Linked DNA regions of Homo sapiens: region 1 is reported to be linked to region 2. Evidence: microRNA targets listed by miRTarBase, many of them from high-throughput screens and not tested one by one. Region 2 holds a microRNA gene; the other region holds the end of a gene's coding sequence.
What was found. Region 2 holds the annotated microRNA hsa-miR-301a-3p (CAGUGCAAUAGUAUUGUCAAAGC, at 1,463-1,485, opposite strand). A microRNA usually pairs through its seed, bases 2 to 8, with sites in the 3' UTR of a target mRNA and lowers its output. Matches are read on the target gene's strand: a 7mer-m8 pairs with bases 2 to 8, a 7mer-A1 pairs with bases 2 to 7 and ends in A, and an 8mer does both.

Region 1: miRTarBase lists TENT2 as a target of hsa-miR-301a-3p. Seed matches in the 3' UTR shown: 7mer-m8 at 1,608-1,614.

Annotation. Positions count from the first base shown.
Region 1 is chr5:79,684,325-79,688,867 of GRCh38, forward strand. It overlaps TENT2 (terminal nucleotidyltransferase 2), which reads left to right. Exons shown (of 15, transcript NM_001114394.3): 15 at 875-3,922. The coding sequence ends at 949. Among named protein-coding and RNA genes, the nearest start is that of CMYA5, 3.2 kb to the right of the region's middle.
Region 2 is chr17:59,149,687-59,153,686 of GRCh38, forward strand. MIR301A (microRNA 301a) reads right to left here and starts at 1,535; the gene lies at 1,450-1,535. The region is part of intron 1 of SKA2 (spindle and kinetochore associated complex subunit 2); the gene reads right to left. RefSeq lists a silencer at 414-493.

The sequences.
Region 1 (4,543 bases), not on the chromosome of region 2:
CCAGACTCAGGCAGCCTCAATCTCCTGCGCTCAATGATCCTCCCACCTCAGCCTCCTGAGTGCTGGGACTATAGGCGTGTGCCACCATACCCAGCCAATTTTTGTATTTTTTGTACAGACAGGGTTTCACCATGTTGCCCAGGCTGGCCTTCAGCTCCTGAGCTCAAGTGATCTGCCCACCTCAGCCTCCCAGAATTCTGGAATTATAGGCATGAGACACTATACCCAGTCTCATAATTATTGTTTTTAATGCAAAAAGCTAGTAAAGATGTAAGACAGTCAATCAAATAATTGAAATAATCCTCTCTTCTCAAATCCAAAGGTTTTGTCTTAATTACCTTGCTACTTTTAGATTGAATTAATCCGTGAATAAATATTAATATTGTCAGTTGTATCTTTCAGTACCACCTATGTGCCCATTTCTTTATTAATGAATTGGAACCATAAAAATATGGAGTTTTTAAATAACATTTTCTTTTCTGATGACAGAAACAATACTTACACTGTGTTAAAAACTTGGAAAATAAAAACTTAGCCAGCCTGGGCAATACAATGAGACCTTGTCTCTACAAAAAAATTTAAAAATAGCTGAGCGTGATGGCATACGCCTGTAGTCCCAGCTACTCAGGAGGCAGAGGTGGGAGGATCTCTTGAGCCTGGAAAGCGGAGGTTGTAGTGAGCCGAGATTGCACCACTGCACTCCAGCTTGGGTGGCAGAGTGAGACCTTATCTCAAAAAAAGAAAAAATTTGAAGGAAAAAATTATTCAAAATTTATCACCTAGAGAGAACCAACTATTAACATTCTTTTAAACTCTCAGTCTTTTGTTCTGCATAAATTTTAGGTTTTAAGAATGATTTTTCTTTCTCTCCCAGTCATGGCACAGATTGAAAAACAAGAGAGATTTGAACAGTATACTACCTGTAAGAGCTGCTGTCCTGAAAAGATAACTGGCCTCTATTTCTTAATAAATTCTTCCAAGAAATAAAGAACAATAGTTTCATCATAATACATTATGTTTACCTCCATCATAGTTGCTTTTTTCATAGTTCTTGTTTTCATGTTTTATTTTTAAAAAGACATATAAAGATTGCATATTTTATTATGACATTTCCTAATAAACCCCTTTGATTTAAAAATGTATTTTTAAAAATGTTTACATTGATGATGAGTAATATTGCATGTGTTTTCAGGTGATCAGATAAAATATATTTTGGGAAATTAACTGAACAAATAAAAAGTTTTTGATATAACTTCAATTAATTGTACCACATGCTAATCCTGAAGAGATGTGTAGAATTTTGGAAAGGGTCTAATTCATACATGCTTAAAGTATAACCTACGTTAGATAGTTTGTTGTCAAAGTCTGTTCTAGTAAAGTGAAGATTCAAGTCAGTTGTTCAGTTACTTGAAGCAAAACGAAATCTTTCATTTCAGTCAAATCACTGCAGTCATGAAATACTGAACAATTGCCTTAAGTCTTTGCTTGACTCACTGGGATAGACTGAGGCTTTGGGTGTGTCTGTATTAGCATTTCATTAGTACTTCACATGCTTTTGATGTACTCTTGAGATTGCTTTAAATTTTGTATTGAAACAACAATACATTTTGCACTGTAGTAATGGGAGCACTAACTCTTACAACAGTTAGTGAATCGTTTTAAAGAATCAGTTCAGTGTAGACATTTTGAAAAGATTGTTTCCTGTGCTTTACGATAGCTTAGTGCAATGTGCACTTCTGTTTTACTTGCCATTTTCCTGCTCTGTTTTCTCTGTGACATGAAGCAACAGAAACTGAGATCAAAGTTAAGATTATATCCTGTTTGTAGTATCAGATATTTTTCTGTGTACAATTATAGGATTGTAATCTAAACTGGAATTTTTAGGCAGTAAGTCACCACAAAATGTTTTAGATAAGACACAATAAAATTATTATAAATAAAAGCTTAATGTTTGTAAAAAATCTCTTTTTTAGTATTTCTTTTTTCACATGAAAGAAGTGGTGGCTGCTAAAAAAAAAGCTACAGTGTTTATTAAGGGTCTTTTTGATTTATGTAAATATTTGTAAATTGGTCAGTGCCTGTAAATTTAAATATAAAAAGTAACCTTGAAAACAGTTTTAACTTTTTCAAAAGAACTATGTCCAACATTTTTTAGACCTGCTGTAGTACAGTTTTGTACCTCTAACGTATTTTTTTTTTGCAGACCAAATGCTAAAACTTTTGCTTTTCTTTGACTTGTAAAAGGTGCACATTTTCATTTTCTTCCTTAAGTTCAAATTTTTGTATGATGTCAAATGCAATAAAATTTATATATGGACATTGTTGAGGTGCCTTTTTTTTCTGTGAAAATCTTTGCTTTGAGATGAGACCGAGGCTGTAGTTATCATCTAGAACTGAACTAAATCTACTTATTAGCCAGCTAACGACATCAATATCTTATGTCTCTGGCATTATGAGGAATGAAAGTTTACACATAGTGAATTTTTTAGATTCCTGATGTGTAACACTTTTTATGCATTTGAGCTTTTCATATTTTGGGGGGGAATTTTTCCTAAAATTTACACTGTGCATCTCTTAATCAGAATGTACTGAGTAGAGTTAATATTCTAGTGATGACTGGGTAATCATTATAAGCATTAGTCATAGTACTATTCAGTAATACTGTGCAACTTTCAGGGATGGGTAAGTATGTACCCTCTGCCTCTACAGTATTATGACATTTCCTAATAAAACCCCAGAATTTACCATGGTGTGGGTTCCTTCACTGTCACTGTTTTCTCAGTTTTCAGTGGCCCCACACTTACTACTGCTTTTCTTTGTTTTACCACGAAAAACAGATCAAGAAGTCACTAAACTTAGACCCAATTCTATATCAGTAGACTGAGGCCTGAAATTATGCACACATAACTGGCCAAATATCAGATAAGTGAACTGTTAATATATGAGAGAATTTTCTGGACTTTTAAGTTATTAATCTCAATTATTTGTGTGGTGAGTACTAAATTATTTTCTGTTTGTGTTGATCTGTCCATTTCTGTATATAGTTGTCCCTCAGTATATTGAGGGATTGATTCCAGGTCAACCCCGTCCTCTTCAGATACCAAAATCCACAGATACTCAAGTCCCTTATATAAAATGGTGTAGTGTTTGCATATATCCTACACACATTCTCTTGATACTTTAAATCATCTCTAAATTACCTGATACGTAATACAATGTAAATGCTATGTAAATAGTTGTTATACTGTATTGTTTAGGGAATAATAATGACAAGACAAAAAGTCTATACCTGTTCGGTACAGATGCAACCATTCTGCCTCCTCCCTACCCCCTCCCAAATATTTTTCATCCTGGTTGAATTCACAAATCCTACATGGTTACGGAGGGTTGACTGTATTTGCATATGTTGTTAAAGTGGTGTTTAAAATGTGCAATCTGTACTACAATTCTAAATTTTGGATTGATTTGAACTAGGATCTTTGCAAATAAATCTCATAGACATTAATGTTTGTAAGAAATTTTTAATTAAATGATGGAAGGAACATAGAATGGCTACCTGTGATTTTGATTAGTGTTTAACAGATTGCCACAGCTGTGATTGAATTCCTTTTGTACTGGATGAGCATGGTCATTTGGGATTACTGATGGTGAAGTCTAGCTGGTGTTAAGAGAATAAATATTGCTGATGCTAAACCTGGTTTAGTGAGCTGTGGAAGCCTTGACTCTGCTGTTTTCCCTCCTTATGCCCCACTAGCTGATGTATCTGTACTGTAATTCAATGATTTACAGTTCATTACCTCCAGACATAATGCATGCATACCAGCTCGTGTAACTGGTGAATAATCCCCAGCTTACAGTCATATTTAACAACTCTGTGACTTGCTATAATTAAAAATAAATGTTAACTCTTCTAGCCATCAAATCATTCTCATGAAATGAATATCTTTATTGTAAAGTTACCTCCATTTGTACATAGCAGTTCTGGTTCTGTTCTCTTCAGGGAGCATCCATTATATGTACCTGCTATGTGCTAGCTACTTTGCTAGTGTGTAGGCTTGTAAGAGATGGGGATGATGGGACAAAGAAGAGTAGTAAACTTACGAAGTCTGCTGGGGAAGGAGATACAAACATAATTTGAATATAGGATTATGTGGGAACCTGGAAGAGAGGTACTGAGTTTAACTTTGGGATTTCAGTGAAAGGTGGTGATCTTGAATGATGGGTATCCTGGTAAAAATGGGACCAACCTTTGAGGCAGAAGGAATTGTGTTAATAAAGACACAGTGGAGTGACTTGACAATGTTGGGAACTCCTGACTTCTAAAGACACCTGACCAGCTGGGCGTGGGGGCTCACACCTGTAATTCCAGAACTTTGGGAGGCTGAGGTGGGCAGATCACCTGAGGTCAGGAGTTCGAGACTAGGCTAGCCAATATGGTGAAACCCCGTCTCTACTAAAAATACAAAAATTAGCTGGGCATGGTGGTGCGCGCCTGTAGTCCCAGCTACTCGGGAGGCTGAGGCAGGAGAATCGCGTGAACCCA
Region 2 (4,000 bases):
CTATACAATGAATACTACTCAGCAATAAAAACTGTCCAACTGCTAATATACAACATGGATGAATCTCAAAGCATTATGCTAAGTGCAAGAAGCCAGACACAAAAGACTGTATAATGTATGATTCCATTTATATGAAATTCTAGGAAAAGTTAAACTAGAGATCAGTGGTTGCCAGGGACTTGGGGAAGAAGAGGTTGACCACAAAGAGGCACAAAGGAATGTAGGGGTCTCACTCTGTTGCTCAGCCTGGTCTGGAACTACTGGGCTCGAGTGATCTTCCCACCTCAGCCACCCGAGTAGCTAGGTCTACAGGTGCACCACCATGCCTGGCCACAAAGGAGCTTTTTGTAAAGTAACAGAAATGTTCTATATCCTGGCTGTGGTGGTGGTTACATGACTGTATACATTTGTCAAAACTCGTCAGTTCACTGGGCATGCCACACCCCTGTAGTCCAAGCTACTCAGGAGGCTGAAGTGGGAGGATTGCTTGAAGCCAGGAGTTCTAGGCTGTGCTGCATTATGATTGCCTCTGTGAATAGTCGCTGCCCTCCAGCTGGGCAACACAGCAAGACTTCGGCTTTGCTTAACAAATAGCTTACTTACTTTTATTTTATATAATTGTATCTCAATAAAATTCATATTTTTTAAAAGTGATGAATCCACACTATTGTATCTCATAAGAATAAACTGTAAAACAAACACTCTTAGGTTTTAAATTCAACCATTTCCTAGACAATACACAAAATTAACACCAATTAAGATTTGGAGGACTAGGCACAGTGGCTCACACCTATAATCCCAGCACTCTGGGAGGCCAAGGCAAGAGGACTGTTTGAGCCCAGGAGTTCAAGACCAACCTCGGCAACACAGTGAGACCCTGTCTCCACAAAAAATTTCAAGAAAATATTAGCCAGGCATGGTAGGACACGCCTGTGGTCCCAGCTACTTAGGAGGCTGAGGAGGGAGGATTATCTAAGCCCGGGAGTACAAGGCTGCAGTGAGGTGTAACTGGGCCACTGCACTCCAGCCTGGGCAACAGAGAAAGACTCTGTCTCTGGAGAAAAAAAAATGACTTGGGGCAAGTAACTGCAGGAAAAATATACAGCAGAAATTGTTTCCATCACTACCAATTCATCATAAAACTCAAATAAAACCTAAAGTTTGACAGAACCTATCCAAATATGTAACAGAAAGCAACAAATTATAAAGTATTACTCATTTAGACAAACCATAACAACTTAGATATAAAAAATATTCTCCAGACGTGTTTCATAATGCAGTAAAATATTGTTTTTAATTAGTTAAAAGGTTTTTTTTTTTCAAATTATGACTTTCTAAAAGATATACTGTTAGTAACAACATTATAGTTCTCAGCAACAAAGGTTGTGGTAAATTATTTACTGATACCGAAGAAAGATGTAAGGTAAGAATCAAAATTCTGGCGTGCATCCTGCTTTCAGATGCTTTGACAATACTATTGCACTGCTAGCTGTAAAGTACAGTAGTGCAATAAAGTCAGAGCATTCGTTAGCAGTAATAAGTAGGAAAGGAACACAAAAGCATCTTGCATCGGTTGAAGCTTCAGTGAGAAACGAATTTAAAGTAGGGTTGCCATTTTGGACAGAAAAACATCCAAAACCAAAAAACATTTATATCAATGTTTTTTTAAAAAAGGATAAGACTTAAATATCAAAGTGATGTTGCTTATTGATGACTAATATACAAATTAACATTCGAACAGAAACATGCATAGATGTAGAAAGGAATTTTGTAAATATGCCCTAAGCCTTAATAGTAATTAGAATGGGTATTGTTAATACTTTAGGATTGGTATTAACAAAACCAGTTATAATTACTACTAAGGCAAAGTTGTGAAAAATATTTTTGTTCTCTGCAGAGATGTTGGTTAGCTCCTTCTTCAAGGCAATTTACTGATTAAACGCCATGTAAAACAAGCCCTTTGAATAAAAGTATCAAAGAAAACAAATGAAAAGTAAAATAATAAGTTTCTCAATCTCTACATACTCAATCTATCACTCTGGAATCTAAACCACTAAACAAAGAAAACACAAAAGCACTTACCATCTTACAGCTTTTTATCTTGAGTTTACTAAGGGCTGTCATAACAACAGAAGGGAATCAATGTGCTCTAAACAGAACATTAACCCTATCTAACTGAATACTATCCAAGGGGATTTTAAAATTTCAGTTAACTCCTGAAATCTTAAATAGAGGCAGAAAGCATCTCCATTTCCTTCAAACTTAGAAATGTCAAAGAGAAAATAATGATGGGGGGAGGTGGGACTGAGATTTAAGTAACAAGTTTCCTTAGTTCCAAGCTAATTGACATTTTAACTTTTTTAACGGATAAGAACCCAATCAGAAGTCAGATGTAAACCCAGAAACAGAAATAGTATCATAGTATCACACTGCATTACCTTTTGTGTACAGTCACTAGTAGTACCACGAAAGAACAAAGCTAAACAAATACCACCCCATCATTAAGTGAAGGGGAAAAAGTCAGAGAACAAAGATTGCCCTACAATAAGCTTATTCCCCCATTAGTAATGTTGATTGATGCAAAAATATATTTTCATTATTTTCACCAACCTCCCTTTAAACGGTCCAATTCAACTACTTAGTCGGATTGAGCCTACTAAGGAAATGGGCTCATACAAAGGACAGCTGAAATATAAGTGTCTTGGTGTCAAATCCTGGGCCACATAACTAAAATATTAGAATATTTAACGCTGGTAGCCAAGTTTCAGGTTTTAAAGACAACTGTTTAAAAGATAAGTGTTTAACTTTCTGAATTGGAAGTTATTACAAACAAGAAAAATATTTAAAAAATTTAAGGTATTAACAAAATTAGGATAAACACTTTCTTTTCAAATTAAATATTATGCATTTCCTTTTACCTTGACAAATCCTTTATTTAACTGATGTAAAACCAAAAATCAGAAGATAGCACAGGAATCATTTACTCTTAAAATCTTATAAAATAAACTGGTCCACAAGTATAACATTTTTTTCTAGAAGCACATGGTAAATCTGAAGATGAGATGCACTGTCTTTTATTATCTAGTCAACACAAAGCAGTAATAATTAGAGCCATGATAAAAATTCATTTCTAAACCCTAATAATTATGGAAACAAACTAATAACCTGAAAGGAAAAAAAAAAAAGCTACCACTAATTTACTTGCAAGGATGTAAGAAAGGAAAAAAACCTCATTTCTTTTTTTCCTGTCTTCAAAAAGAATTTAAATACTACCCCATCATTCAAACAATACCTAAAAGTTTAAATGTCTGGCTACCTTATAATTTTCTAAAACCTACTTTTTCAAAATGTTTACTTCATCATTGTTCACTTAAAAGAGAATTTGTTCAATCTAAAGAAGTCCTGTGAGAATACTGACTCTACTGTAAAAGCCAGACGAAGTTTAAAAATTAGAAACAGCCAATTTGAGAAGCAAACAACCTGTTAAAAGCAGAATTAGCATCATTTAGCAGAAATGAATTATGAATTTAAGCAGAAATATCTATATCAGTAGGGAGGAATTCAGAATGGGAGAAGGGCAAGATAGTCTTAACATTTAAGCCTGTTGACAGAATCAAATTACAATGCTTAACATTTTGTTTTTTTTAAATGATAATAAAACTTAAAACTAAAAGTTCATTATTACAGGTTTGAAAATCTGCAGGAAATTCTTCCTTCTTCCCTCCCATTTCTCCCTACACTTCTCCAACCCCACACACACTGCACAAAGAAAATTTAAACACAAAATGCTAAAAGTAATTGAAAGCCTTCAAATTAAATTTGTATATGAGAGGCACTCCAATTCATTAGCACAACAGAAGAAAATAAGATATATCAAGGCCTCACTTTTTCTGGGGTGGGAATGGGGGGTGGGTGAGGTTTCTTCCAGGATCACCACCCATCCTTTCCAAGGAAGAAGTTAGAGACCCAAGATTCAGCTTGAAGAAAGCAGGGCAGGCAC